4 linked regions of the Homo sapiens genome follow. The protein of the gene in region 3 interacts with the protein of the main gene of each other region in a biochemical or structural test. Each region holds a gene or a part of one and is shown on either strand. Other genes may lie near its edges. The genes, in order: PML, PTEN, CSNK2A1 and CALM1.

Region 1 (8,193 bases), on a different chromosome or scaffold from region 3:
CCAAACTGAGTTCCTTGAAGGCAGAATGTATCCTACACCTCTTATATCTCAGAGCCTATTACTGTGGGTGATGAGAAGTAGATGCTCAATAAATGGTGCAGTGAGAGCTGGAGGGCCTGAATAAATGGGGGTATTGGGGTGCTGATAAGCCAGGGTTTTGCATCATCCAATGACTGGCTGGAATGGAATATGAGGTCCTACTCCAGGGTCCAGCTGTAAGGGTGGTTGGCCGGTAGGTGGGGGCTTTTGGGACTTCTCCAGGCCTCACCTGCCTCTCTGGTCCCCCAGCGAGCCCCCGCTTCGGAGGAGGAGTTCCAGTTTCTGCGCTGCCAGCAATGCCAGGCGGAAGCCAAGTGCCCGAAGCTGCTGCCTTGTCTGCACACGCTGTGCTCAGGATGCCTGGAGGCGTCGGGCATGCAGTGCCCCATCTGCCAGGCGCCCTGGCCCCTAGGTGCAGACACACCCGCCCTGGATAACGTCTTTTTCGAGAGTCTGCAGCGGCGCCTGTCGGTGTACCGGCAGATTGTGGATGCGCAGGCTGTGTGCACCCGCTGCAAAGAGTCGGCCGACTTCTGGTGCTTTGAGTGCGAGCAGCTCCTCTGCGCCAAGTGCTTCGAGGCACACCAGTGGTTCCTCAAGCACGAGGCCCGGCCCCTAGCAGAGCTGCGCAACCAGTCGGTGCGTGAGTTCCTGGACGGCACCCGCAAGACCAACAACATCTTCTGCTCCAACCCCAACCACCGCACCCCTACGCTGACCAGGTGAGTAGGCCGGCACAGGGTGGGGTGGTGCATCCAAGTACCAGGTAGAGGGCGAGAGGAGCAAAGATCCAAAGAGTCACACAGCTGAGGACAAGGAGCTTCTGGGGCCTTGCAACTCTAAATGTGGTCTGCAGATATGCAGTGTCCGTGTTGATGACCACAATTTATGCTGCCAGTCCCCACGCAGGTGGATAGTAAGTTTCCAGTTTCCTCCTGTAATAAATAATGCTGCAGAATCATCTTTGCATCTTTATCCAGTAACTTCTTTAGGATAAATTTTTAGAAGTGCCACTGCTGGGTGTAGGGGGACGGGAATTCTACATTTGATACATGTTACCAAACTGCCCTTTAGAATTTAGTGGAATTTTCCGAGAGCACTGACACGGAATCTCAGTAAGGCTGGATTCTAGGATCAGAGACAAGTAGTTAGTTTCTGTCTGAAAAGTTGAAACCATTAACACCAGGCAGCGCTATCTGAGAATGTCTGTATGGGGAAAAAAAATCACATCCAGTTGTAATTATTTTTATTAAACAGATTTTAACTCAGTTTTTTAATAGGTAATACATTCGTACAGTTCACGAACAAAATTTGTAAAGAGGAGAGAGAGAGTGCAATCTTCTGTCCATGCCCAACTGCCTAATTCCCACCACTTCTCCCTCTTCCCATCCACAGGTAGCCATTGTTACTAGTTTTGAATGTTTCTTCTGAGAGTTTCTTTACGAATATATATGCAGGTAGGAGCAATCTTATCAGGTCCTATTTTCCCTCTTTTAGCCAAAAAGGTAGCATAACTATGTGAACTTTTCACCATTAGCAATAGATTGTTCATAGAAGGCGCTTCTTGGTTCTTAGAGATCCACTTGCAAAATGAAAGCATTTTTCGCTGGTTTTTGACAACTCAGAACTATATATGGCTAAACCACATATTTGCTGAACTACATATCTGCTAAACTGACTGTGATTTGTTTCCTGCTTTAGGATAAACTTCCCACACTATCAGAATAAGCTTTCCCCTCCGACTCCTCAACAGCTGGTATCACCACGTTTCTTAGCTTATTGTAAAGGTTGAGTGGCTTTCCACTTGTTTATTGGCCATTGTGTTTCTGCATTTGCGAGTGGCCTGTTTAGGTCCTTTGCCTGTTGTTGTTGTTGTTTCCGTTGAGGAATTAAGGGACTAATTAAAGAATTCAGGAACAAATTCCTCGAAAGAAAAAAATGTATGCATTTCTTTTGCTCTTACAATTTATGCAGTTTTAAAACTTACATATTTATTGGATTTTGATTGAAATTGCAATAAATTAGGAGAAATTGGCTTTATCTCTGGTTCTATCTTTTGGATTTAAAAAATTTTTTTTAATTTTTTTTTTTTTTTTTTGAGATGGAGTCTCGCTGTGTCACCCAGGCTGGAGTGCAGTGGCGCGATCTCGGCTCACTGCAACCTCCACCTCCCGGGTTCACGCCATTTTCCTGCCTCAGCCTCCCAAGTAGCTGCGATTACAGGTGCACATCATCATGCCTGGCTAATTTTTTGGCATTTTTAGTAGAGACAGGGTTTCACTATAATGGTCAGGCTGGTCTCCTGACCTCAGGTGATCCACCTGCCTCGGCCTCCCAAAGTTCTGGGATTACAGGCATGAGCCACCATGCCCAGCCTTATACTAATTTCTTAATGAATTTGTAAGCTTTCATGTTTTGAACGTGATAATGCAGCCATCCCACGGGATCCATGGGAGTCTGTTTCAAATTCATAGATGCTCAAGTCTCTGATATAAAATGGCATAGTATTTGTATATAACCTCTACACATCCTCCTGTATACTTTATTTTTTATTTTATTTTTATTTTTTGAGACGGGGTCTTGCTCTGTCGCCCAGGCTGGAGTGCAGTGCTGCACTCGTGGCTCACTGCAGCCTCAATCTCTTGGGTTCAAACAATCCTCCCACCTCAGCCACCAGATTATACAGGACTGCAGGTGTGCACCACCACACTCAGCTAATTTTTAAATTTTTTGTAGAGACAGGGTTTCACGACATTGCCCAGACTGGTCTTGAGAACTCTTGGGCTCAGGCAGCAACCCTCCCTAGGCCTCTCAAAGTGCTGGGATTACAGGTGTGAGCCACTGTACCCATCCCCTCCTGTATACTTTAAGTCATCTCTAGATTACTTATAATGCCTAATACAATGTAAATGCTATGTAAAGAGTTGTTTTACTATATTTTTGAATTTGTATATTTTTTTATTGTGGTACTTTTTTAATTGATTTTTTTTCGCCTGAATATTTTTGATCCAAGATTTGTTGAATCCACGGGTGCGTAACCTGCAGATACTGAGGGCCAACTGTACATATAAATTGTTTAGCGTAGTGCCTGGCACATATTAAATACTCAGTGAATGTTAAAATTCTATTATAATTTCTCTGCTCTAGAACAATTTGAAGAATATAAGAAATTTAGGCTTATAAAAGTTTTTTGAAAAACCATCTTGGAACTGGTGCCTTTTTTATAGTAGATTTTTGGGAACTTTTCCCATTTTTGCCATGGCATTAATCTGTTTTGGCTCTTGTGTCAGATTTTTGGAAGATTTTCCAGTTCATCCTGAGTTATCTTTCATTATTTAAAAATCTCCTATATGCCTGTAACTATACCCCCTTTTTTTATTTCTGATGTTGTATATTTGTGGTTTAGCAGTCTTTTCAAAGTACTGTACTTTTAGTCTTTCCTTAGATTGCTTACTGATTTTAATGTTTTCCTTCTTTCTGTTTGATCATTTTATTTTTGTCATTTTCTTCCTTCTAACTTTTGTCATTATTCATTTTCTAGCTTCTTGAACTTATAATTCATTTATTTGCAATCTTTATTGTTTAATAATAATAACTTTTTTTTTTTTGAGAATCTCCCTCTGTCACCCAGGCTGGAGTGCAGTGGTAGATCTTGGCTCACTGCAACCTGTGCCTCCTGGGTTCAAGTGATTCTCCTGCCTCAGCCTCCCCAGTAGCTGAGACTACAGGTGCCCACCACCATGCCTGGCTAATTTTTTTTATTTTTAGTAGAGACGGGGTTTCCCCATGTTGACCAGGCTGGTCTCGAACTCCTGGCCTCAAGTGATCCACCCGCCTCAGTCTCCCAAAGTTCTGGGATTACAGGCGTGAGCTACAATGCCCTGCCTAATAATAACTCTTTTAAGGCATAAGTTCTCTGTATATGGTTTTGGCTGTATGCCATAACTTTGATAACTTCATTAGTGTTCTCATAGTCAATCATTTCTCAAATTTCATTTCAGTCTTTTCTTAAAAAGGTTCTCTTGCTTAAGGTCAAGAGTTCGAGATCAGCCTGGGCAACATAGCAAGACCTCATCTTTACAAAAAATAAAAAAAATTAGCCAGGCATGGTCGGTGGTACATGCTTGTAGTCCCAGTTATTTGGGAGGTTGAGGCAGGAGGGTTGCTTGAACCTAAGAATTTGAGCCTGCAGTGAGCTGTGATGGTGCCACTTCACTCCAACCAGAGCATCAGAACCGGACCCTGACTCGAAAAAAAAAAAAAAGAAATTTTTTTCTCTTGAAAAGTTTTAGAGAATAGTGTTTTCTAAAATTTTCAAGTGGTTTTGATGTTTGGTTTCTTGTTCTGTCACCCAGGCTGGAATGTGATGGTGCGATTTCATACTTGTTAATTTCTGCACTATGGCCAGTTTATACAGTTTGTATGAGTTCTACATCTAAGACTATATTGAGATTTTCTTAGCGGCCTAGGATATTCCTTGGACTCACATATTCCTAGCAATAATCCTTAGAGTTGAAAAGTTGTATTTGTTGTACACACATATATATACATACACAAATATATGTATATAATATATATGTGTATATATGCATATATCTATATGTATATATCCATATATATGTAAGTTCTAGTGCTTGTGTGTGTGTGTGTATCTCCACGCTATTGAAACTTTCTACCTTTCTTTCTTTTCTTTTTTTTTTTTTTTTTTTGATGGAGTCTTGCTCTGTCATCCAGGTTGGAGTGCAGTGGCATGATCTCGGCTCACTGCAACCTCCTCCTCCCGGGTTCAAGTGTTTCTCCTGCCTCAGCCTCCTGAGTAGCTGGGATTACAGGCGTGTGCCACCATGCCCGGCTAAGTTTTTTTTTTTTTTTTGTATTTTTAGTAGAGAAGGGGTTTCATTATGTTGGCCAGGATGGTCTTGATCTCCTGACCTTGTGATCCACCCGCCTCAGCCTCCCAAAGTGCTGGGATTACAGGCGTGAGCCAACATGTCTGGCCGAAACTTTCTACCTTTCCTTCCATTCTGTTTCACCAGTTCTCTAAATGATAATTACAGAGTGGTAACTTCCCCATCAAAACATATATATAGGCCAGATGTGGTGGCTTCCACCTGTAATCCCAACACTTTGGGAGGCCAAGGCCGGTGGATATTTTGAGCCCAGGAGTTTGAGGCCAGCCTGGGCAATATGGTGAAACCCCGTCTCTACAAAAAAATACAAAATTAGCTGGACATGGTGGCACATGCCTCTCGTCCCAGCTATTCGGGAGGTGGAGGTATTCCTCAGAGAGGATCACCTGAGCCTGTCCGTTCAAGGATGCAGTGAGCCATGATCACGCCACTGCACTCCAGCCTGGGTGACACAATGAGACTCTGTCTTAAAAAAAGAAAAAAAGTGGGCCAGGCGCAGTGGCTCACGCTTGTAATCCCAGCACTTTGGGAGGCTGAGGCAGGCGGATCATGAGGTCAGGAGTTCAATACCAGCCTCACCAACATGGTGAAACCTCGTCTCTATTAAAAATACAAAAATTAGCCGGGCGTGGTGGCGGGCGCCTGTAATCCCAGCTACTCGGGAGGCTGAGGTAGGAGAATTGCTTGAAACTGGAAGGCGGAGGTTGCAGTGAGCTGAGATTGTGCCACTGCACTCCAGCCTGGGCAACAAGAGTGAAACTCCATCTCAGAAAAAAAAAGTGTATACACACACCAACACACACATACATGCACACTCTAGAACCTATCTCATCTATCACCACAAAGAGTAGAATATAACTATTCTTCCAGAGAAAATAAAACATTTAGCACACTTTTATAGTTTTTCTTCTTCCCTCTTCCTTCTCACTTTCAGATTTAGTTGAAATAATGTGAACTTTTAGTTCCAGATTACTACCAAATTGTTAATTTTTTTTTCTTTTGTAAACATCCTTTCTGAACAGGTATTAAGCTTCATGGTCATATTACAACGCACTTGTTAGCCATACCTTATACTTTAATTGGTTTCATTGCTCATGATAAGTTTTCCTATAGCTTTTCTTCTCCTTTCTTGAATTATTTAAGGTGATTAATTTTCCATTTGGCAGGAATACTCCATCAAGTAATTAAAAAAATTATTCCAGAGTTTACTTTCTGAGACCTTAAGTGTCTTTACTTGTATGTCCTTCTTTTGCTGTCACATGTGAGGGAAAGTTGAGCTAGGTGTAAAATTCTGAGGTCATAATCACAGTGCTTTCACCTCAGAATATATAAACCTTGCTTCATAAATTTCTAGTCTCTGGTGTTGTAGATGAGAAGTCCACTAATGGTCTATTTTTTCTCTGTGAGTAATCTGTTTTTGTTTGTTAAGGATCTTTATTTATTTTTATTTATTTTACTTTTTAGAGATGGGGTCTCACTCTGTCACCCAGGTTGGAATGCAGTGGTGCAATCAGAGTTCACTGCAGCCTCAAACTCCTGGGCTCAAGCAATCCTCCCACCTTGACCTCCCAAGTAGCCAGGACTACAGGCACCTGCCACCGTGCCTGGCTAATAAATATAGTTGGATGGTTTTCATTTGTTTATTTGTTTGTTTAGAGATAAGTTCTTGCTCTGTTGCCCAGGCTGGTGTGCAGTGGTGTGATCATAGCTCACTGTAACCTCGAACTCCTAGACTCAAGAGGTCTGCTAGCCTTAGTCTCTGAGTAGCTAGGACTATAGGTGCCTGCCACCATGCCTGGCTAATTTTTAAAATTTTATGTAGAGATAGGGTCTCACTATATTGCCCAGGCTGGTCTAAACTCCTGGCTTCAAGTGATCCTCCTGCCTTAGCCGCCCAAAGCACTGGGATTACAGGCTTGAGCCCATGCCCAGCCTGCTAAAGATCTTTATATAATTTTTTCTTTTTTCAATAATCTTCTATCGCCATTGTTGATCTGAAAAACTCAAGTCTTTCTTCAGCTCTTCATCTCAGGGAAATTGTATTCTGCTTTTTAATTTTTTTTTTTTTTTTGAGATAGAGTATTGCTCTTGGAATATAGTGGCATGATCTTGGCTCATTGCAACCTTTGCCTCCCAGGCTCAAGCAGTTCTCATGCCTCAGCCTCCCAAGTAGCTGGAACTACAGGAATGCGCCACTACACCTGGCTAATTTTTGCATTTTCTTTTTAGTAGACACAAGGTTTTGCCATATTGGCCAGGCTGGTCTTGAATTCCTGGCCTCAAGTGATCTGCCCGCCTTGGCCTCCCAAAGTGCTGGGATTATAGGCGTGAGCCACTGTGCCTGGCCATACTTTTTAATATACTGATAGCCCTTCATTTGTTTATTTTATTTTTTATTTTTATTTTTTGAGACAGGGTCTCACTCTCACCCAGGCTGGAGTGCAATGGCACGATCTCGGCTCACTGCAACCTCCACCTCCTGGGTTCAAGTGATTTTCCTGCCTCAGCCTCCCGAGTAGCTGGGACTACAGGTGCGCACCACCATGCCCAGCTAATTTTTGTATTATTAGTAGAGACGGCGTTTCACCATATTGGCCAGGCTGGTCTCGAACTCCTGACCTCGTGATCCACCCGCCTCAGCCTCCCAAAGTGCTGGGATTACAGGTGTGAGCCACTGCACCCGGCCCATTTGTTTATTTTTAAAATTTTTACTACTGTTGTTATATGGATATTGGAACTCCAAGAACATATTTTACATCTTTTAAATTTTTTCCCCATTAATTCTGTTGCTTTGCTTTTTTCCCCGAGATTCTCAGAGAGCTCCTCGAATTGTTTTTCTAACTCGCCAGCTCATCTTTTCGCCGCTGACTCCATTCTTCTATCTGCTACCCCTGTAGAGTTGTTGTGGGTTTTTTTCCCCCCAGCAATCTTTTTTTTTTTAATTGCCAAAAGAGCTTAATGCTCTCAGGATGCTTTTTCTTGGCAGCCTGCTCTTGTTTTCTCATTGTAGTGTGTTCTTAAGTCTCCCTGAAAAACACAGTTGGCATTTACAGAGGTGTATGTTTCCTACACGATCCCCTTTTCAATGGGTACTTGCTCAGTTTGGCTGCTGATTCTCTTCATAGGTCCTGCGGTCTGTGCTATCTGCTCCCATGTAAAAGTTGACATCTAGATTGTTCAGTGTTTGTAGCTAGCGTGGGCTGGCAGCAATTGTGTAAAGCACAATTTATACCCCACATTCAAT
Region 2 (8,193 bases), on a different chromosome or scaffold from region 3:
TTTGAGAGGCATTTTTATTAAAGCAGTCTTAAGGAGTGTTCGTCAAACCACATGTTCTGGGATCCTGAGAAAGTAGGGGAAGTTTAGAGAACTGAAGCTGCACAAAACTAATGTTTATTTTCTGTTGTGTTGTCCTGAGACCAGCTTCTTAGATTGTGTTTCCTAGTCCTACATCTCTGATTCCTTATAAAATATTCCATTATGAATTCTTCACTATTGACAATTTCTCCCCTTTTATCTTAAAAGTACCAAAGAAAGTGTAAAATGTGACTGTCTTGTCAGTCCTCTTTTTCCTGTTTTTCATGTCAGTGGGTATGAAATTACTAGCAAGGATGCATATATGTGCATATGTCATTACTAAATGCATTTTCTTTCTAGAAAAACTCAATATACTAAATTGTACTAAAAAGGAAAAGCTTGTTTTGTTTTGAGTGGTAGTATGAAAGTTGTTTTATTTTAGGTCTGACCAGTTAGAAACCAATGGATTGTAGTTTATTTATAATTAGTTAAACCTTCATGTGAATTTGGTTTTGAATTACCTTTAAGGTAGAGAAGAAACTATATAGATGTTTTTCAGGGTTTCTAAATGTACAATACAGGTTCACAATCACTTATTTGAAACTCTTGGGGCCAAGTATGTTTCCATTTTCAGAAATTTTAGTTTTCAAAAGGTAGCACAGATAAATATACTTTTACATAAACACCCCAGTGGGGTGTGGGTCAGTACCTGAAATGAAATGTTTTACTCTTCGCTCTAAGTGTATTAAATATTATGTACAATCTTATTACTTCAGATCAGGATTTGCTGTAGTTGAGTTTGCCATAAAACTTAAGAGAAAATTTTAGATGTTTTGAACTTTTGGGATATTGAAATTGCAGGTTAAGGAGCTATGGACCTTTATTTGTTTTAAAATGCTAAGAGTTTATTTTAAGTAATTTTTAAAAAATTTGTTTTGCATAGTAGTTGGAGTTACCAGGGTACTGCTAACCACACTGATATGTAAGATCTCTTTCTGAGCCTTTTATTGTTTGTAAACATGGCCTGTTAATCATTAGAAAGCCAGTACATACTAACATATCACTGCTATTAAGACAAATATTAGCATACTCTAGTAATGACAAGTCAGCATTTTACTATTCTGTATTGATTTTACTTATTCTTTCATTACTCTCATACTGTAATTAAAACTTGCAATCTGAGAGACTGTTGAAAAAGGTGATCGTTGGCTTTTCAACAGGGAGTAAGGTCTGGTTTAAAAAAAAATTAGTAAGCATTTGGCCAAGTAGATTAACAACATTCAGTTTTTCTTTACTGTCCTTATGCTTTTACTATTTTTAACATATATCTTTTTGAAGAATAGTTTGAGAATTATGTATGCTTAACTATGAGATACAGATACTATTGAAACTAGTCAGTTGTTTATAGGTACTTGTAAAATTAAAAATATATTCCAATAGCATGCAGATTTTTCATAGAGGAAATTTGAAAGCATGGAAGCACCTGAATTTACAGTACTCTGTATTAGTGGCATCACAAGTTTTTAAGCAAATGTATTAGCTCTAATTGCATACACTTAATCTTTTAAGCTTTGGTTTTATTATTATAATATGGGGGTGATAACAGTATCTACTTAATAGAATTCTTGTTATTACATGAAATAATTAATGTTAAACACAGCATAATATGTGTCACATTATAAAGATTCAGGCAATGTTTGTTAGTATTAGTACTTTTTTTTCTTCCTAAGTGCAAAAGATAACTTTATATCACTTTTAAACTTTTCTTTTAGTTGTGCTGAAAGACATTATGACACCGCCAAATTTAATTGCAGAGGTAGGTATGAATGTACTGTACTATGTTGTATAACTTAAACCCGATAGACTGTATCTTACTGTCATAACAATAATGAGTCATCCAGATTATCGAGTGAGATACATATTTAAGAATTATCTTTAAAAATTTCAAAAATTTTAATTTTACTGTTGTGTTTTAGGAAAAAGTATTGCATAAAGCTATTAATATTGTCAGGAAGACTAAAGTGCAGCATAGACTAAGAATTAGGAAAATTCCTAGACTAAAAATAGTATAAGGAGAGGGTTTACCTACTATTTGAGGCAGTTGGTCTAATAGTAAGCAATCACAGGGAGAAAGCAGAACTACTTAACTCTTCTGTGTTGAGGAATGACATAAAAGGTAGGAAAGGATATAACAAATGTTGATAAGAGGAGTCTGATGGATGAGAGGAGGGAACTGCTTTAAATGAGTTTCTACTTCAGACATAAGTTAATTCTCAGAGCCCACAAAAACTTTCACTTTTATTTGTGAAATACAACTCAGTTCTCATGGCTTAACACTTTAAACCATGAGAAAACTGAAGAGTTGAGAAGCTTGGCAGATGCTGCTGTGATAGTCAAAAAGAAAGTGGGTGCCATGAGCTACTATTGATGTATTTGCCATTGATCCCTCCTGAAAATCTAGAATGGACTTTCAGACAAATGGTTTGAAAATTCTAAATCACTAATGATTGAGATTTAGTATAGGTTTACTAAGAACGGGTTTTTTTTGTTTTTGTTTTTGGTGGATTTAGGCTGTTGCTTACTAAGCAAAGCAGGCTTTAGTTGAGGTTTATCTTGCTTTAAACAGATATTTAACAGATTTTCCTGGAGGTTTTTGTGTACCACTGGGAAAATGAAGTTAGGCAGATGACTAAGTGAAAGCTGTCCTGCTGACTCCTTATAATGATAGTCATTGTCTACCAGAAGATCTCTCCTGTCACACCAAAGGATAATTGATTATATCCTGTACCATATTATGAGTCACCTGATTGGAGATATAAGACATACTTCTCACATATTTAGATGACACAGGTTAGTACATTGAATATCAGCCAGGGTTTTTAAGGATCTTAATAGAGTGGAACTAAGGTAGAAACTATTAAGAGCAATTAATAGTGATATATCTATAGTCCTGTTTCTAAACAAGTTTTTTTAAAAACCTCAACTCTGACTATAGTGAACAGAGAAGTCTTGGACTCTTACAATTCATGTGAGAAGACCTGAAACTTTGATAACAATTATATACATTTTGTGAGTAATTTCTTTGGTGTATGCCTTCACATATCTCTGGTATGTGACCTATGCTGCAGTCCATTGAGCATAGATTCCCAGAATGTATTCTCCTGCAGAAAATGGAGGAAAATAATACTTGGCTTCCCTAATGATTACATGTGTATACAACACTAACATTTGCAAGACCACCTTTAAATAACACACTTAGCATTTTTATTTTATGAAATGTAATATGTAGTTCTTTGCATAGTTTATCCTATTAGTAATCTATTCTGTCTTTGGAATATGTTTTGTGATGATGAAATAAATACTATAAATAGTATTATTCCTTTTGCATTGAGAGTCCTGACGAAATGTCCATGTGACAGTTCATTTTGGGTTTAGCTCTACCTCTAATATGTGACCTATGCTACCAGTCCGTATAGCGTAAATTCCCAGAATATATCCTCCTGAATAAAATGGGGGAAAATAATACCTGGCTTCCTTAATGATTATATTTAAGACTTATCAAGAGACTATTTTCTATTTAACAATTAGAAAGTTAAGCAATACATTATTTTTCTCTGGAATCCAGTGTTTCTTTTAAATACCTGTTAAGTTTGTATGCAACATTTCTAAAGTTACCTACTTGTTAATTAAAAATTCAAGAGTTTTTTTTTCTTATTCTGAGGTTATCTTTTTACCACAGTTGCACAATATCCTTTTGAAGACCATAACCCACCACAGCTAGAACTTATCAAACCCTTTTGTGAAGATCTTGACCAATGGCTAAGTGAAGATGACAATCATGTTGCAGCAATTCACTGTAAAGCTGGAAAGGGACGAACTGGTGTAATGATATGTGCATATTTATTACATCGGGGCAAATTTTTAAAGGCACAAGAGGCCCTAGATTTCTATGGGGAAGTAAGGACCAGAGACAAAAAGGTAAGTTATTTTTTGATGTTTTTCCTTTCCTCTTCCTGGATCTGAGAATTTATTGGAAAACAGATTTTGGGTTTCTTTTTTTCCTTCAGTTTTATTGAGGTGTAATTGACAAGTAAAAATTATATATAAATACAATGTATAATATGATGTTTTGATGTATGTGTATATACATTGTGAAATGATTACTACAGTCAAACTACTTAACATATTCATCACCTCACATAATTATTATTCTCCCCCCAGGGTGAAAGCATTTAAGATCTACAAGCTACAATTTTCAATTATACAATGTTATTATTAACTATAGTCACTATGCTGTCCAGTAGAGCTTCAGATCTTGTTCATCTTGTGTTCCTCCCTCCCCACCCTCAGTCCCTGGAAAACAGGTTTTAAAGATAGTTGCTAATCCTTATTTCTTCTAAATTTTTAAATCAGTTGCTGCCTCAATTTCTATATGAGAAATGACTGATTGATTTCATTTTTCTGTTCACGCTACCATTTTCATATCATACTAGCACATGTTACCCATTAACTGTATTGCAGATTTGGTCTCACAAAATTCTTCTAAAATAACATTTTTAAAAAGCATATTAATCAAAAATAAGCTTTATATTTCTGAAGCTTGTTTGAGCATAGAATGCCTTTGGATAAAATACCATTACCTAGTAAAGTGTGAACTTTTATAATCCATAAAAATTATTCTTTTATAAGAATATTCATAAATGTAGTTAGATTAATAGAAGATTCTCGATTCTTTGATCAGAAAACTAAGGACTATATTGAAAAATCAGTGACAAATTTAATTCTTATAGTACATCTGAAAGAAAAAAGAAAACTCTTGGGAGAACTTTTACAGTGATTTAATTTTGCTGTTGATATATTTCTTTGGGTGGTAAGTATGGCAAAACATGTTAAAATTTAATGCAAAGAGATTTTGTACATTTTTCCATCTCTAAGAAGGACAAAGCCTAAGCCCCTCCAGATAGATAGAAAAACTCATTTAGAGAGTTCTCCTTCATGTTAATCTAATTTCTTCTTAATTCAGCTGTAAAACAGAAATAGAATGATCGTATTAATCATTTAAAGCTGTGTAATTGCATAGATTCCTTGTTCCTTTACCCCCTCTTATATCTTGTTTCCTATCCTTTGTGACTTTTTTTGCATTATATATAAGGATGCCGAAATACTGTTTATTGTTGATAGTTTACAAAATTGAATCTTACATTAGTGCATAATTTTGGTGAATGTTGAAGATTATGGTAGATTGCCTTACATTTCTGCATATTGTTTGCACCTTGGAATGATAGCACTGGCATGAATTATAGAGCTGAGGATCTAAAGATTTTTACTTTGATTTATCCCATTATCATCTGCAGGGAAACAATTGCTTTTACTGATTAAAAATGCAGGCTGGGCACAGCGGCTCACGCCTGTAATCCCAGTACTTTGGGAGGCCGAGGCGGGCGGATCACAAGGTCAAGAGATCGAGACCATCCTGGCCAACCAACATGGTGAAACCTCATCTCTACTAAAAATACAAAAATTAGCTGGGTGTGGTGGCGCGTGCCTGTAATCCCAGCTACTCAGGATGCTGAGGCAGGAGAATCGCTTGAACCCGGGAGGTGGAGGTTGCAGTGAGCCGAGACTGTGCCACTGCACTCCAGCCTGGTGATAGAGGGAGACTCCATCTCAAAAAAAAAAAAAAATGCAGTAGCAAAAGCGATGGTAGAAATTTAAAACAGAGTTGATGAGCAGCATATATTTTGGTAGTGGAAAAAAAGGTAAAAAATTTTTTGTAATAAAATAGAAAAATTTTGTAATGTGGAGGCGCAGAACACTAGATTTAAGCCAGGGGGTCTTAAATTGTGTTACATTCCTTTTAAAGTCTGATGGAAGGTATAAATGTTCTCCCCTCAAAAAATGTGCATAGTGTACATAAAATTTTGCAGTTTTTATTACATTGAAATATATTCTTTTAGACAGAATGTAAAAGAACCTTCATGAAAACTATGTCACTTTTTTATGCAAAAACCAGTGGCTACTACATGAGAGCAATGAATAAATCTAAGTGGTACAAATTAACCAAAATTAAGCTTTAGTTCTGTTCAATACTAAATTTTAATGAAAAGACTGCTATTTAACTTTTAAAATAACAAGTTGAAACTATGCTCTTTGACTTTGACTTTGCAACTTTTATATGATCTTTGATATCCAATCAGTGTTGACTTTGGTAAAAAGTGCTGAAAATGCTATTTTACAAAAGAAAGAAGAGTAAATGGAATCTGTAGATTCTATTGCCTGATGAAAGTAGACGTGTCAAGAAATAAGAATTCTCCAAGGCTCTTCAGATAAATTCATGTTTCATCATTTTCTTTGCCTTCAAGTTACTGAGATCATTTTTGGCAAGATCTGTATCATTAATGCTGTGTTAGGAAAGAAAAGATTATGACTCCACATTTTACTTTCAAGGTTGAAGAGTTAAACTGTTTAAAAAGAGTGTATGTTATCCTGTAAACAGCAGTATCAGGCTGTAGAATTTGTCTTCTGAAAGCAGGGAACTTATATATAGCAAAGAACTTCATAGTGCTCCCATTTCTTGACAAAACCTCTCGAGAAGCTCTTGATTGAAAGTCTTGGCTTTCATGAATCTGGCAGCTTTCACAATAGTGGATTTTTCATGACAAATCATCTTACACAGGGAATTATTCAAGGGTTGGCACTTGAAACAGTAGAATACTTTCACAACAAGAGATAAGATTTCTTTCAGGATTGATGACAGTCTTGCACCCTAGCGCATACTGATGAAGAGAGCAGTGGGTGACCATGACATGGAGAGCTTCTGTCTTTACCAGTGCCCCAATATCAGATGTGTTGTCTGGCAGTAAGGTGTACTGTCTGCCTACAGAATACTGAGGTTTCTTCAGGAGAAGTTTTTTGGTAAAGAAACTTTACCATTTTGAAAGTGTTAATGTTTTCTGAAGCTTCCAAAAAGATTCCAAAATGGGAATGTTTCCTTGATTGTGTCACCATGCTTGCATTTGATGAAAACTTGTAGCCGGCTATACTGAGAAATCATATCTGAAGAAAGGTGGTACTTCCAATCTTTTTGTGACCTACTTTATTATTGTTTTTTTAATGTCAGGGTTTTTTTTGGAATGGAGAAAAGTATTTGATAGAGGTATTGCAACAGTCTTATTCTTCTTCATGCTACAAGTATATTTGACTCTTTCTAAGATACTTGCCTTCACTGTTCAACTGTGTGACTTTTTGTTTGTTTAGCATTACAATCAATATCCTAGTAGGATGATTTAATCAATGATTTTTAATTGGAACAAATAGTTTTTGTAATGGTCTAGGCTTTTCCAACTTAACTGTGCTCTCACATGTGGTCTCTTTTTCTCCCTCTTTCCTCCTTCTTATACACTCTCACCCACACACATATGCATACATACCCTGTCTGATGTATCTGCTTCTTCAGAATAGTTGGCTGTGCTCTGCTGATGATGAGAACTTGCCATTTAAGAAGGACTTGGGATAGTCCATGTCATCATGTTCAGGGATAAAAGTAAAACCCAAGGGCATTTAAACTTTATTGTATTTTATTTTCTGTTTCCAGTCCAAATTAAATCCAAGAGAAGGCTCCATAATCAAAAAGTAAGGACATATTTTAAATTTGCCAATGGGAAGATATTCTAGTCATTACAGTCTGGTAATACTATCAATTCTGTTTCTCTTCAGAGGTGAGGGGAGACTATTTGATGAAATCGTAAGTCCTGTAGGGTGTTGTGAAATAGGGCCAGAATGAAAGATAGCAAGAATAGTGTTATGAAAATAAAATGCAAAGTTTATAATATCATGTGGTAAAATGTAATAGTATTTACTTCATCAGTAGAACTGCTCTAGTAGCTGTATATTCTCCATCCTTGCATAGGTTGGAATATCCCCCAAGTGAAAAGAGATTGATGGGCTAATAGTTAATAGAAAATGGAGATCTGTACATACAGTGTTAAGAATGTAGATATTAAAATTGTTATATTTAGCTGTTACATAATATTAAGACTCAGAGTTAAGTAATTTCACTGAAATTGATTGCTTTTTGTGTCTTGGAGTCAAAATAAATAACTGAAATCTACTATACTTGGCTCATGCTTAATTAATATACTTAGACCATATTTCGGATGAATTATTCACAGAATC
Region 3 (6,986 bases):
TCTTGGCTCCTGTAATGAGAAAAAGGGAAAAAAATGCTGCAGCAGCTGGGGCTGGCTTCCTGATCCCACCCTGGGAATCAGAGTCTCAGCTATTGATAAACATTTCTAGCCATACCTAGAAGGAGAGGACCTTGCTTCTGTGTGTTGAACAGTTCCAAGAACTCCATGGTGAACTTCCTATGAAGAACCCTCCATAACCCTCAACCCTTCAAACCTGACGGTATACCTCATTTTGTTCTCCCGTCTCTGGCATTCCTCACCCACCCACGCTGACTGGTCTTTCCAAAGTTCATTTCTGTAATATAGGATGTCTTTGGTTTCAACAAACATTTGTAAGTGCCCCTGAGCCTGGTCTTTGCTATACACTGGGGATTGAGAGGTGAGACACAAGCCCATGGGGAAATGTATGTTAATTAGAAAAGTGAAAAAATTGTGTATATGGGATAATTCCAACTGTTTTAAAAAAAAAATCCTAGGAAAAATGCAAATGCCTATTTCAGAGAAAGAAATGGAAATCCCAAGGTGGCAAAAAGGAAGGCAGAATTCATCCTGAATGTAACTGGGGTTTTTTTGTTTTGTTTTGTTTTGTTTGTTTGTTTTGTTTTTGAGACAGGCATGGGATTACATGCACCACCACGCCCAGCTAATTTTGTATTTTTAGTAGAGACGGGGTTTCTCCATGTTGGTCAGGCTGGTCTCGAACTCCCGACCTCAGGTGATCCGCCCGCCCAAGCCTCCCAAAGTGGTGGGATTACAGGCGTGAGCCACTGCGCCCAGCCTAAGTGGGTATTAAAGTCAGTGCTTCCAAGACACTGGGTCTGGGTATAGGTGGGCCTCAGGCTATGGACTAGGGTTTGAATGCCCCCAGGGAGATAGGACACAGACTCCCGGGCTTTCTAAGATAGAAACTGAAACAATGCTGTGGCACTTGGAAAGGCTACAGGGGCAGGATTGAGGTGGTGGGGGTGGTAAAAACTAGAAGAATACTAGCTGTTGTTGCCTCTGGGTGATGAGGTTAAGATACCACGGAAGGCCCACACACCTGTGGTTGGAACACTTTGGGAGCCGGGAGTCCCAGACCAGCCTGGACAACATGGCGAAAACCCACCTCTACAAAAAATAGATTAGCTGAGTGTGGTGGTGTGCGCCTGTGTCCTAGCTACTGGGGAGGCCAAAGGACGAGAATTAATTGCCTGAGCCCAAGAAGTCAAGGCTGCAGTGAGGTGTGATTGTGCCACAGTACTCAAGCCCAAGTGACAGAGCAAGACCCTGTCTAAAAAGATTTTTTTAAAGTCACAGAAGCTGGGCGTGGTGGCTCATGCCTGTAATCTCAGCTCTTTGGGAGGCTGAGGCAGGAGGATTGCTTGAGGCCACGAGTTGGAGACCAGCCTGGGCAACATAGGGAGACCCTGTCTCTACCAAAATTAAAAATTAGCTGGATGTGGTGGCACATGCCTGTAGTGCTAGCTACTCTGGAGGCTGAGGCAGGAGGATCACTTGAGCCCAGGGGTTCAAGGCTGCAGTGAGCTATGATAGTGCCACTGCACCCCAGACTGAGCAACAGAGTGAGACCCTGTCTGTAAAAGAAGTTGTTATTAATTGAAAAAAAGATTTAACAGGCTGGGTGCAGTGGCTCACACCTGTAATCTCAGCACTTTGAGAGGTGGAGGCGGGCGACTCACTTGAGCTCAGGAATTCAAGGCCGGTCTGGGAAACATGATGAAACCCTCTCTACAAAAAATACACAGATTAGCTGGGCATGGTGGTGCATGCCTGTAGTCCCAGCTACTTGGGAGGCTGAGATGGAGGAATCAATTGAGCCCAGGAGGTTGAGGCTGCAGTGAGCCATGATTTCACCACTGCACTCCAGCCTGTGCAACATAGGGAGACCCCGCCTCCAAAAAAAAAAGTAACAGAAAAACTCACTAGGTGCCGGGCATGGTGGCTCACGCCTGTAATCCAACACTTTGGGAGACCAAGGCGAGTGGATCACCTGAGGTCAGGAGTTTGAAACCAGACTGAACAACATGGTGACACCCTGTTTCTACTAAAAAATACAAAAATTAGCTGGGCTTGGTGACGTGTGCCTGCAGTCCCAGCTACTTGGGAGGCTGAGGCAGGAGAATTGCTTGAGCCTGGGAGGTGGCGGTTACAGTGAGCTGAGATCACGTCAGTGTACTCCAGCCTGGGTGACAGAGCCAGACTCCATCTAAAAGTAAAAAAGAAAAACTCACTAGGAAGGAATCTTGAAGTCTTGGAGAAGAGAGAATGGTCCATGAGGCCTCAGAGGAGGGGCTGCCTGAACTGGCGAGGGAGAGGCCCAGCCTAACAAGTTTCAGCTGCCAAGGCCCATGCCTGGGATCAGAACCCTGTCTCCTGGCTCAATTTTGCTTGTGGGGCTGCTTTTGCACAGCTATGTTGCCAGGAATCTGTCCAGGTTCCTAGCCAGTCATTGCAGACAAATTTTTTCTTTCTTTTGCTTTTGTTCTCTGTCTAGTCTTAGTCTCACAAATTTCTAAGGCAACTGTATGTAGTTCAGCTGATCTAGATCAAGTTCAGCCCAAGCAGCTGTTTTTCAGGTTGTGGGTCGGCTGGGCTGGACACCTCCATGTGAATTGGATTCAGGTTTGCCCAATGTGGCAGAAGTTGCAGCAGCTACTCAGGGCGTGCTCTTCTCATGAATCACAGAAACTTAGAAGAGACCAAATGGAATCACACAAGCACATTTCAAGCCTCTGCTGTGTCACAAGCACCATCATCCCATTGGCGAAAGCAAATCACATAGCCAAGCCCAACATCAGTGCAGTAGGGAAGCATAGAGCCTGTGTTGGGAAAACTTTATGAGGTTATATGGCAAAGGGTGTGTATGTTTAGTCTTATTACAGGGGAATGAAGAAACAAACCAATAATGCAATCAGCCATACTATTCATATATATCAGTAGGAACAGAAGGCAACCACATATAACATCTATGTATATATATATGTGTGTGTGGAAAGGATTACACCAACTTTTTTTTTTTTTTTTTGAGTCAGAGTCTTAACTCTGTCACCCAGGCTGGAGTGCGGTGGCATGATCTCAGCCCACTGCAACCTCCACCTCCCAGGTTCAAGCGATTCTCCTGCCTCAGCCTCCCAAGTAGTTGGGATTATAGGCACATGCCACCACACCCAGATAGTTTTTGTATTTTTACAAAACAACAGGGTTTCACCATGTTGGCCAGGCTGGTCTGGAACTCCTGACATCAAGTAATCTGCCTGCCTCGGCCTCCAAAAGTGCTGAGATTATAGGCGTGAGCCACCGTGCCCGGCTGAGAATACTTGTTTACTTGTTTTCAAGCAACAAAAATTGAGAATCAGTCTTTGAGACTCCATGGCCAGAAACAACACAACATTCCACTATACACAGGGTGCTTCTGGGGGTCCTCGGTGTTGTGTTTATTGGGGTGGTACCTAAATGTTGTATTTGCTCTATAATTATTTGTTAAACTCTCCATTTACGTTTGGGGCACTTCTCAGTATATTTGCTAGAGTTCAAATGTTTAAAAGTTTACAAAATGAAAACTGAGCAGAGTAAGACAAGCCAAAAAAGTATTAACTCAGCAGGAATGGGAAAAGTTATGAAAGGAGGGAAAACTAAATATCATACTGCTGGTTCAGCTGTGATTAGAATTTACGTAGTCATAATGGAAACACTGAATACTGGTCTAACCAGGATTACAGTATGATGACAATGGAAAGAGGAGTGATGGGAAATGCTGGCATGTGTGGTGGTGTTGGTAACAGGACAAGCGGTCTAAGCTCTAAACTCTCATCATTTATAAGGGGAACTAATGCCTAAAACTGAAAAATCAAACAGTTGCATGTTATTTTGAGATTTTTTAAATTATTGTTAAGATAGTAGCAGTATTTACTTTTAAAACTATATTTATGTATTACTCTGGTGAAAAAGCAACTACTTTTAATAAATGGATATTTATCTTGAATGCATCCACTTCCTCCCATTCCCGTTGCCAAATTCCTCATCCCAGCCACCATCCTCTCTTGCTTGGAGTATCATAGCAGATAACTGGTCTTGATGCCTTCCCATCTCGTCTCAATTCCTGATTCATCTGACACCTGCAACCAAAGATCTTTCAAAAATAAATATTCTAGTCCAGGCACAGTGACTCATATCTATAACCCCAGCATTTTGGGAGGCCAAGGCCCGATGATCACTTGAGGCCTGGGTAACACAGCGAGTCCTCTGTTCTACAAAAAATGAAAACATTAACTAGTGTGGTGGTGTGTGACTATAGTGCTAGCTACTGGGGAGGCTGGGTGGGAGGATACGTTGAGCCCAGGAGTTGGAGGCTGCAGTGAGCTATGATCACATTGCTCTCAGTGAGACCTGGCTGACAGAGTGAGAACCTCTCTCTTAAAAATAATAAATAAATTTTATCTCAGTCCCTTGCTTAAAAGCCTTTCAAAGACTAGATCACTTGCAATGTTGTTGTCTCCTCCCAAGGGAGTCATTCCTCCCTTCCTCTTTGTTGACAGAGCCCCAGTTTGAGGGACAGCGGGATATCCACCATGCTGCTGTGAGACTCGGGCAGTTGTGACTGGTTTAGAAGTGGATACACAGGGAGAGGTCTTCTGGAAAAGGTCTTCTGGAGAGCTGAGATCAGAAGACAATCAACTGGCTTCAAATCTAAGGAGAGACAGGCACAAAATGGAAGAGATGACATGGGCACTGGTTACCTGGTAAACACAAGTGGACACTGGTGAGGGACTGGGTCATGGAGACTGCAGTAGTCTTTACCCTTTTCAGCGTTTTTCACCATGAACCCCACTGGGAGCACACAGAAGATTGGAGAAAGTTTTAATAAAATGTCTCAAGATCTGGAAGAAGACAATGGCAGCTACTGTGAAAGGATCACAGTGCTCCACCCAGACCCTTCCCTGTATCCCCTACCGGACAAAAGCCTTAGTCTGTGGAGGGAAGGACACCAAATCCTGTCACCCCCTTGGATGAAGCTCCCTTGCATCTGGGGGAATGAAACAGGAACAAAACAAAACTTTCCCTGGGCAGGGGCAGGAATACACACTGGGCCCAGAACTGGGGGAGGAACAGGAGCACTAAGGAGGACATAACCCCAAAATCAGAGACACAAAGGGCCTGACAGAGACTGAGACTTGATCAGAACAGAGAATTCCCTCCTCCCCCACCTGCCAATGGTAAGCTGACAAGCCTTGAGTTAGAAGTAAAAATGTTACAGGAGAGAGACAAGAGTATGGGAAGAAGACCCTTTCTGAGGGTCACAAAGGGAGGACCTAAAGCTGAGCAGGGAGCACACATGGAAGGAGAAAATCCCTCTGGCAGGCCAGCCTGCACCCTCAGTCCAAGGTGTCATTGGAGGAACTGGAAGCTGCTGCATTGGGGGTAACCATAGCAACAATAAACCTCAAACCTAGCCCAACTCTTTTTTTTATTTACTTTTTAGAGACAAGGTCTTGCTCTGTTGCCCAGGCTGAAGTGCAGTGGTGTGATCGCAGCTCACTGCAGCCTCAAACTCCTGGGCTCAAGCAATCCTCCTGCTTCAGCCTTTGTAGGAGATTGGTCAGGGTGGTGGGAGAAATTATAGGAAAGACACAAACCTTCTTGGAAGGCCGAGAGGTTTTGCAAAAGCTTCAGAAAGAAATTATGGCTGAAGGCAGCCAAATTCTTATCTGAAGCCTGAGAGCAAAGGGCAGATAACAGGGGAGTTGTATAGGAACTTACCTAGATAAATTTGTTTATTCCTGTGTCCAGAAACCAACCTTTGATCATTCACACACAGGACTGCTGTCTACTTGGGATGTTGACAATGTTTATTGCCCACAAATTGTGTTTGCTCCAAGCCTTTGTCATTAAATTTGTGCTAAATAAATGTGAGGGCCACCAGCTTAAGGGGACTGCTAACTCTCTTCGGCCCCTAGTGCTGGCAGTCCCCTAGCCTGCTCTCTCACTGAATATCTGTGTCTGAGTACTCCTTTCATCTGTCACTCGGCCAAAGTCTGTGGGACAGACTCGGCAGGTGATTCCCTGTGTGAGGAATGCTGCAACAGATCACGACGGAACCCTCGAAAATGAAGGTGAAGAGACTGCGCAGTCAGTAAGTCATTGGTGCCTGTTCAGCATTTCCAAGTTCAAAGGAATTGCTCAAGCTAGGGACGATCATCATGGGATGACAGTTGTCATCATGGGACAACAGTTGTCAGCTCAACAGCAACAGTATATAAAAGTAGTAAAACAAATGCTGAAAGTTAGCAGAGCCTCAGACAGGCTCAATTATGGGACCTAATGCAAACTGTTGTTTCCCATAACCCATGGCTCTCGGAAGAAGGTACACTAGACGTAGAGCTCTGGGAAGAAATTTTAACATCATGAGCAAGGGCAATGGGTCTCAGTAACATCTTTAACGTTATGGGCTTTAGTTAGGACTGCTTTGGTCCCACTCTACACAGAAAAGCCTAAAAAAGTAAGGGAGATGGAACCGTCACCTACCCTACCGTCTCCTCCTTCTCCCTCAGCCCAGCCATTAACAGGCAAAAATAACAAAGAGGAAACAGAGGTTTTGCCTGAGCCCCCTCCTCCAATAAATTGGAAAAAGACAAGGGATACACTACAGCTTTGGGACCCTGTCTTAGCCAAGCGGCATCAGAAGGGGAGCTCTTAGCCTGCCCAGTAATGCAAGATCGACAAGGCGATCAGGTATATGAACCCATTTCTTTTGACGCTTATAAAGAGATAAGAAAAAAACGTTAAAGAAAATGGAGCTGCTAGCCCATTTATGAAAGGAATAATTGAAGCCATAGCAGACAACTTCTTTTGACGCTTATAAAGTGGTAAGAAAAAGCATTAAACGGAGCCACTAGCCCATTTACAAAAGGAATAATTGAAACCATAGCAGACAACTTCCATATCACCCCATGGGACTGGTCAGTGCTAGCTAAAACAACTTTAAA
Region 4 (8,193 bases), on a different chromosome or scaffold from region 3:
GTGGACTGAATGATAACCTTTTCTTTCTTCATATAGGCTGATCAGCTGACCGAAGAACAGATTGCTGGTAAGTTGACAACTCCAAGGAGTCCCCAGAAGGCCAGAACTAGGCACTGACTCAGTTTTGGTGACTCCTCTGTTCCTCCCCGCTACAGTCTGGGCAGTTTTCTAAGAATTTATTTAAATAAGAACAGTAAGCAGAAACACTGAGGTCAGATGTTATTCTTGCCAGTACTTTATAGATGAGGTGAAAGGAAGTAAAACTAAGGATGCCCACATGTTAAACTCTGGAGAATTTGACCATGTTTCACAATGTGCAAAGTTTGCGTATGATTAATTGTACTGAGCCTGCTACTCAGCGGTTTAGTTTACAATTCTTATGCCATGGGTCTTTCAGTAATCTGCCACGAAAGCTTGTGCTCGCTATCCTAAAATAAATGGAAATGGGTGAATATGAGTGTTAGGACCACTGTAGTAATTGGGAAGAAAGTTACATTAGTTAAACTCTGTTGCCCAGGCTGGTCTCTAACTCCTGGGCTCAAGCAATCCTCCTGCCTCAGCCTCCTGAGTAGCTGGGACTACAGGCATGTGCCACCACGTCTGGCAGATTTTAGCTTTTTAATATTCCTGGAGGACTTGTTTTGAGACTGTTTCTCGTTAGGAAACCAGGAATGCTTCTGAAATATTCTAAAAGTCATGTGGAGAGAGTTTACCTGGGAATGTACATTTCTAGTAACCATTTTATTTGTTATGAAACAAGGGATTCTTATGGCTTTAGAAATGTAACAGGAAGGGATTTGAAGGGGGCACATGGACCAATCTTGTCAGATTGGATTTAGTCCCTTGAACCTGGGAGGCAGGGGTTGTAGTGAGCTGAGATTGCACCACTGCACTCCAATCTCGGTGACAGAGCGAGACTCCATTGTTTAAAAAAAAAAAAAAAGATTGGATTTAGGACTAATTTAAGCATGTTCCAGCTTAGCCGCCTTGAAACCTTTGGGAATATTGTGGTGTGTGGCACTGTTTATTGGGAGCAGTGTTTGCTTTATGGGCTGCTGTATGAAGGCCAGTCCAACAGGACTATTGTGGTCATTATTTCAGTAGATAAAGACCAGACTTCTGATACGTTGCACAACTTGAATGGCTGGCTTTGGCAAGCCCCCGGCAAGTGTGTATTGTGACTGGGTTGGATAAAGACATTGATTCTAACGGGTCAACTTTTGTTTTCAGAATTCAAGGAAGCCTTCTCCCTATTTGATAAAGATGGCGATGGCACCATCACAACAAAGGAACTTGGAACTGTCATGAGGTCACTGGGTCAGAACCCAACAGAAGCTGAATTGCAGGATATGATCAATGAAGTGGATGCTGATGGTAAGAGCTTTAAAACCATGAATGAGGGCCATTGTTGTGTAATTCAAGTTCAGACATGTTACAGGATTGTCTTTCAGGTCCCCAGAGCAAAGCAAATGTGCAAAGATCCTTTCTGTGGTTGCCCCAGGGCCATTGACAATTAAAATAGAAGATGATGGGCCTTGCGTCCATCCTGCTTAGTGTCTAGAATGTTTTCTGCATGGGATCACTATTGTTTTCTTCCTGCTTGGTGCGACCTAGAGCTCAAATCTATTTTTTTTTTTTTTTTTGGAGACGGAGTCTCGCCCTGTCGCCCAGGCTGGAGTGGCACTGGCGCGATCTCGGCTCACTGCAACCTCTGCCTCTTGGGTTCCAGCGATTCTCCTGCGTCAGCCTTCTGAGTAGCTGGAATTACAGGCGTGTGTCGCCACGCCCAGTTAGTGTTTTGTATCTTTAGTAGAGATGGGGTTTCACCATGTTGGCCAGGCTGGTCTCAAACTCCTGACCTCGTGATCCGCCCTCCCCGGCCTCCCAAAGTGCTGGGATTACAGGCGTGAACCACTGCTCCTGGCCGAGCTCAAAGCTTTTATCAACTGGCCCATGAGTCTGCACTGAGTCTTGAGGGGGGAGGTGAAATTAAATAGCCATAGAAAGTGCTTTTTAACAAACTTACTGTGTTTAAAGAGGAGGAGGAACCCCCAGATGAAGTAGGTGACGAGCACTCTTAGAAGTTACCATAAAAGTGAGTACAGTGTGAGCTGTAGATGTGTTTGCTGCAGAGGAGCATGTGAGGTTTGGAGGCGGATGTGTGGTGACTCCAGGGGATAGATTTGCAGAACCTAACGGAAAGGGAAGCTGTAAGGTGCAGGGCCAGAGGGAACCAGCAGTAACCCTGATAGCGGTCTGTCATCTGTTCCTCTCGACTCTACAGCAGCGGACAACAGAACTTTGATTGCTGATTTCCATCAGTAAGCAGGCTTTGAAGCACACTTCCCCACCCCTAAAAAAAAACCACGTATTTTGGTAAATCCTATATATATTCTAATGTACTGTATGACAGTATAGAACATGATTTTTAAAAGATGAGTTGGGAGGAGAAAAGGATAAAAGAAAAAATAAAAGAAGCATTAAGAATAAACAATTCGGATCTAGATTTTACTTTCTAGATGATTGACTCGAGGGTGGTGTAGTAAAATCGCTTGTCTGGTCACAAACATTTGGCAGCAGAGCTTTTGATTAGGTTCTTTGACAAAGCCTTCAGCACGTTAGAGTGGTTTTCACTAATAGTGTTTTGGAAAGAAAAGGTTGTCCATAGTTCTCTAGTTTGCTAAGATGATCAGCTACCCAGGAACGTGGAGTAACTTCCTCTTGTTTGTGGGAGCCCCGGGAATCTGTGCCTGGGGAGGGGAGAAGTCTGTTAGGCTCTTGGATTGTGTGGAAGAAGGAGAAGTTGTGCCAGGCTACAGAATCCTGTGTTTGCACTGAGAAAACAGGATGGTACCTGACCTTCTCTGCATGGCTGTGAGATAGCTTAAAATAATTTCTTTTGTTTTTGATGAATATGAACAATATCTTAAAATTTTTGAGGCTAAAAAAGTCTTGAAGGGATCCCTGAGGTATTTTCTTTGAAAGGTACTGGTGAAAATGAGTAACTTAACCTAAGGGTTTTTCTTTCTAATTTTATTTCCATTTAGTTCAATGACACTGTTAGTCTGGAGTGCTTGTCTTTGGGGGTATTCATCTCTTAGTTTTAAAGAGGAGTTGTTTGGAGTACTGGCCGTAGAACAGATTGTTCTGACAGTTCCCTAAGTGTTACTAGTCTGAGCTGTGAGAATGCTCCTGAGCTTTTCCCTTAATGGGAAATAAAGATACTGAGTTGGAAGAAAACAGGTGGCTAACCATCATAGCGTGGCCAAGAAATGATCCTGGAGAAGACTTGGTAAGACTTCATGGCCCATGCATGGCATAACAGAATCAATGTTCCTCTCTCATAATCTTTTCTCCTCTGAAACACTTTATACACTTAACCTGCAGCTCAGTTCTAGGCCTTTTTTGTGTTACTGCTGTCACTAACCAAGGCAGAGTGAGACCTGAGTGATTTCCCTAACTCAGGGATGGCAGTCGGGGGCGCTTTCTTCCCTCGGAGTGGAAAGATTCAGCCTGCGGAGTGGTGTATGCTATTTTTCTCTTGAACTGTACAGCCCTTCATGACCCTTCCATGGGCTTGAATCCAGATGTGCAGTTTCCTTTGTATAATTAAATACTATCCTGGGCACTGATGATGAGTTTGAAATTATGTGAAATTGCCCTGTGAAGTGTTTGAACGTTTTAGACCTGCAGATGATTGAACCTAGTAAGATAGTCTGCCCCTTTGTCCTAGTACATGTTTACCGTTCCGTACAGTGGTTCTGAAATGATTACTGCAGAGCAGCGTTAATGGAGTGCTTACTTTACATGAGCTTTTTGTTTTTTAATTCGAGGTAATGGCACCATTGACTTCCCCGAATTTTTGACTATGATGGCTAGAAAAATGAAAGATACAGATAGTGAAGAAGAAATCCGTGAGGCATTCCGAGTCTTTGACAAGGTAATCCAGCATCTACATAGCAGATGGTACTTAAGTATGGCTTCTTCCGCTTTCACTTCTAAAAGCTATAATAATGTTATAGACAGAAGACTTAAATCTAACTGCCTGAGCCTCTGATCTCACTTTCAAAAATCCTCCTTATGGTAACCGTATCAGGGGAGGGTAGGCATAATAAATAGGAATTTTGGACCATGTTTCTTGACTGTTACTTTGAATTGTTGTGAGCTTTTGCAAATCCTGTTTTCTGCATTAGCTGTTTGCATGTATTTAGTAGGTTAGAGGTGGGAACTAGAGATCAGAGAATTGTTTATGGCAGCAGAGTTAGCAGTAACTTGAGAGGGCATAGCTAAGTCAAAGACCTACTTCCCCACACTACATCATTAGCAATAACAATTGCTGAATGTTCACAGGATGGCAATGGTTATATCAGTGCAGCAGAACTACGTCACGTCATGACAAACTTAGGAGAAAAACTAACAGATGAAGAAGTAGATGAAATGATCAGAGAAGCAGATATTGATGGAGACGGACAAGTCAACTATGAAGGTAAAACTAAATTCTCTGAGCTCAGTGTTTCATAGTCTTACCTTTAGATCTGTAAGCAAGCCAACTGCTTCACTAGACAGCCTTTGACTTTATTTTATGTACAGTAAAGATGTTGTGTTCATTAAAGCTGTTTTCAAAGATAACCAAAAGTTACTATTATATTTGTCTTTTCAGAATTCGTACAGATGATGACTGCAAAATGAAGACCTACTTTCAACTCCTTTTTCCCCCCTCTAGAAGAATCAAATTGAATCTTTTACTTACCTCTTGCAAAAAAAAGAAAAAAGAAAAAAGTTCATTTATTCATTCTGTTTCTATATAGCAAAACTGAATGTCAAAAGTACCTTCTGTCCACACACACAAAATCTGCATGTATTGGTTGGTGGTCCTGTCCCCTAAAGATCAAGCTACACATCAGTTTTACAATATAAATACTTGTACTACCTTAATGATAAGGACTCCTTAAAGTTCCATTTGCTAATGATTAATACACTGTTTGGGCTGGCCAGTTTTTCATGCATGCAGCTTGACGATTGAGCACAGTCAGGCCTTTGTATTAAAAATGAAAAATGAAAAAACAAATTCAAAACCTATTCAAATGGGTTCTAGTTCAATTTGTTTAGTATAAATTGTCATAGCTGGTTTACTGAAAACAAACACATTTAAAATTGGTTTACCTCAGGATGACGTGCAGAAAAATGGGTGAAGGATAAACCGTTGAGACGTGGCCCCACTGGTAGGATGGTCCTCTTGTACTTCGTGTGCTCCGACCCATGGTGACGATGACACACCCTGGTGGCATGCCCGTGTATGTTGGTTTAGCGTTGTCTGCATTGTTCTAGAGTGAAACAGGTGTCAGGCTGTCACTGTTCACACAAATTTTTAATAAGAAACATTTACCAAGGGAGCATCTTTGGACTCTCTGTTTTTAAAACCTTCTGAACCATGACTTGGAGCCGGCAGAGTAGGCTGTGGCTGTGGACTTCAGCACAACCATCAACATTGCTGTTCAAAGAAATTACAGTTTACGTCCATTCCAAGTTGTAAATGCTAGTCTTTTTTTTTTTTTTTCCAATAAAAAGACCATTAACTTAAAGTGGTGTTAAATGCTTTGTAAAGCTGAGATCTAAATGGGGACAAGGCAGGTGGAGGGGAGGCCAGTGTACATGTAAATGCCCACAGCCCAGCATTGGGTTTCCCTCCCAAGGCCCCAGCACCAACCTCTGAGCCCAAGACCTTGCCTGAAAACAAGCAGATACCGATTGCTTCATCCTATTTATGGACATGTAGGTCTAGTTGCATTTTCACTGGGGGGAGGGGGGAAGGTGAATTATGGTAACTTTTAATGATCTATTCAGGCAGTAGAGCTCTTAAGGAAAAAAAAAAACCCACTTTCTCTCAAGCATGTATTTAGGGGTTGTTCTCAATTGTGCTGCTGATTACCTGTCTTATGTAACTACTTGAGACCATCTGCAAGAGACATGATTTAGTGTGTCTGTAATTCAATCTTCGCTGTGTGTGGTAGAAGCAGTAGTCACTTTTGTAAGCCAGTCTCTTCATGCCTAAAAGACACTACCAGTCACCTTTGATTCGCGACTTTTAATTTATGATTATACTTAGCCTCCTCCTCCTTTTTTTTTTTTTCCCAAGTTGACTTGACTTTGCTTTTTTCCCCCCAAGTAGAACTAATGCTAGCTTCCAGCTTGAAAGTAAAACTCCAGTGTGGAGTGAATTTTGTGTCTAATTATAAACCTGTAACCAAAACTCAGACATCTGGTACTGGTCTTTGCATTGAGATTGGTCCCTGTAAAACCCCCTTTAAAAGCATATTGCATTTAGTACAGAGCTCTTTTTTGAAATGAAGGCTGGAGATGTGCATTTTTCACGGTGTTAACTGGTTGTATCTTATTAGCAAGGAGATTGGGGTTTTGAGTGTTTGCGTGGGTGGTTTCAATTTGCCAGGGAACAGTGGCAGGCTGCTAGCAAGGCAGTGAGAAGCTCTTGGCAGCCAAATGGGTGCATTCAGGGCTGATTTATAGAGACCCTTGGCTTCTCCTTCTCCTACTCCCTGTCTTTCTGGCATTTTGTAGCTTGTTAGATTTTCTGCCAGAGGGGTGGGTCAGAGCAGTGGAGGGGAGACATCGCCCATGTGCTTCTGCTACTGGTCCTTGGGCTGGGTGGTTGGTAGAGGAGATGTTGACACTATGAGCTAAGGGTTGGCTTTTGTAATTACCTGAATCTGAAAGGAATGCCTAAGGTTACCTTGGGGTTTCTCTTCTGGTGAGATAGGGTTCCTGGTTTGAGTAAGTTAATGTCCTGGATATTTCTTGTGGCAGGGGGTGGTCAAAGAGCCTGATTGCTGACCCAGTCTCAGGCCTGTGGTCGATGACCTCTCGGTAGTTTCAAAGGGGGCTGGAGGGGGATATTTGACTTGTTTTTTCGAAATGTAGCCTTCTAACCCTCAAGTCTTTAGAAGCTGGGTGGACTCTTAGTGGTCCTGCAGCGTATCCTAAAAGACTACCTTTGAAACAGGATTCTTGTATGGCCAGGATCCTGTCTGGGAACCAGAAACCCTACACCCTCCCCCTCCAGGGAATGCTGAGTTCCAGTTTTGAGCAGAGGTGAGGCAGAATCCACTGTAGCCTTCCGCCCTGGTATTTGGGGGGATGACCAGCCCAGGCGTTGGGTGTTAGTCTGCATGAGTTTGTGAGAGGAAATAGCTGGGTGTCCTGGCAGTGCCCTTGAAGTTGGTTAGGACCTTCCTGTAAACTCTTGCCCCTACTTCTAACTACTCTATAAATATATACATATATTTATATATAAAGTGATTAGTTGAACTGGCATCCTGCTTTAGCCTGAGACTTGCCATAAGAAACTGCTGAGTACTTGGCAAACCCTTTCATAGTTTTGTTCTCCATCTGTTTGGGGTAGGTGTTGAGCGAGGCAAATGGATCTCGATATTTCAGATGGGCTTTTGATGCACTGTTGCCAAGGAAGGCTTTTTCTGATTTTTTGACAAATGAATTTTTGCACACTTTCATTGGTGTCTTTCGGCAACTTACACACATTGAAAATGAGCTATTGTACATATTTTTATATTCTCTTTATAAATGCATGTCTGATTGTACTTGTAACAATATTGTAATGAACGGCTGTGCAGTAGGCCCAGCGCTGCTGTGTCTCGTCAGAGGAATAGCTTACCACGAACCCCTCAGCATACTGGGAATCTCTTCCTGAACAACGAATGTAAATTTGGTCAAGTCTACTCTTCCGTTCATTCAATTATTTTAAGCATTTGAATTATTTATTGTATATCCTAAATATATTTCTCCTTTGGCAGTGACTAGATTTCCACTAATGTGTCTTAATCTATCCCTCCAGCTGGCAGTTACTGTTTTTTTAATCCCCTGAAGTTGTCCTGTAGGAGACAGAAATTCTTTGCTGTCTGTATCCCTTGGAGTAAGAAGGTAGTGGCATGGGTGGAGTGTGTGTTCTTTCTCCAAATCTATTATGATGTTTATTAAACACTTCTGTAGCAAAGATGGTGGTAGTTCTTTTGTTACTGAAGTTGCCCTTCACCATGGCTATTTGAAAAGGAGATGTACTTGGACGTTTCTGTAAATCTTGAGATAAACTGTTTGGAGATTTAACCACCTCTCTGATGGGGGACCAACTCTATGGAAATTGTAAATACGTTTTATTTATAA

Evidence for each region.
Region 1: of the proteins of CSNK2A1 (region 3) and PML, one has a biochemical effect on the other in vitro, tested with the Homo sapiens proteins (2 studies listed by BioGRID and IntAct).
Region 2: the proteins of CSNK2A1 (region 3) and PTEN form a complex in vitro, tested with the Homo sapiens proteins (3 studies listed by BioGRID, with this or other methods).
Region 4: of the proteins of CSNK2A1 (region 3) and CALM1, one has a biochemical effect on the other in vitro, tested with the Homo sapiens proteins (3 studies listed by BioGRID, with this or other methods).

The regions. Positions count from the first base shown.
Region 1 is NC_000015.10:73,997,716-74,005,908, forward strand, and holds part of PML (protein PML), read left to right. Parts: intron 1-288; coding exon 289-761; intron 762-8,193.
Region 2 is NC_000010.11:87,929,256-87,937,448, forward strand, and holds part of PTEN (phosphatidylinositol 3,4,5-trisphosphate 3-phosphatase and dual-specificity protein phosphatase PTEN), read left to right. Parts: intron 1-1,790; coding exon 1,791-1,834; intron 1,835-3,757; coding exon 3,758-3,996; intron 3,997-8,193. UniProt on the Homo sapiens protein: Dual-specificity protein phosphatase, dephosphorylating tyrosine-, serine- and threonine-phosphorylated proteins.
Region 3 is NC_000020.11:471,503-478,488, reverse strand, and holds the end of CSNK2A1 (casein kinase II subunit alpha), read left to right. Parts: 3' UTR 1-5,991; downstream 5,992-6,986. UniProt on the Homo sapiens protein: Catalytic subunit of a constitutively active serine/threonine-protein kinase complex that phosphorylates a large number of substrates containing acidic residues C-terminal to the phosphorylated serine or threonine.
Region 4 is NC_000014.9:90,400,029-90,408,221, forward strand, and holds part of CALM1 (calmodulin-1), read left to right. Parts: intron 1-36; coding exon 37-67; intron 68-1,230; coding exon 1,231-1,374; intron 1,375-3,833; coding exon 3,834-3,940; intron 3,941-4,350; coding exon 4,351-4,486; intron 4,487-4,660; coding exon 4,661-4,689; 3' UTR 4,690-8,193. UniProt on the Homo sapiens protein: Calmodulin acts as part of a calcium signal transduction pathway by mediating the control of a large number of enzymes, ion channels, aquaporins and other proteins through calcium-binding. Calcium-binding is required for the activation of calmodulin.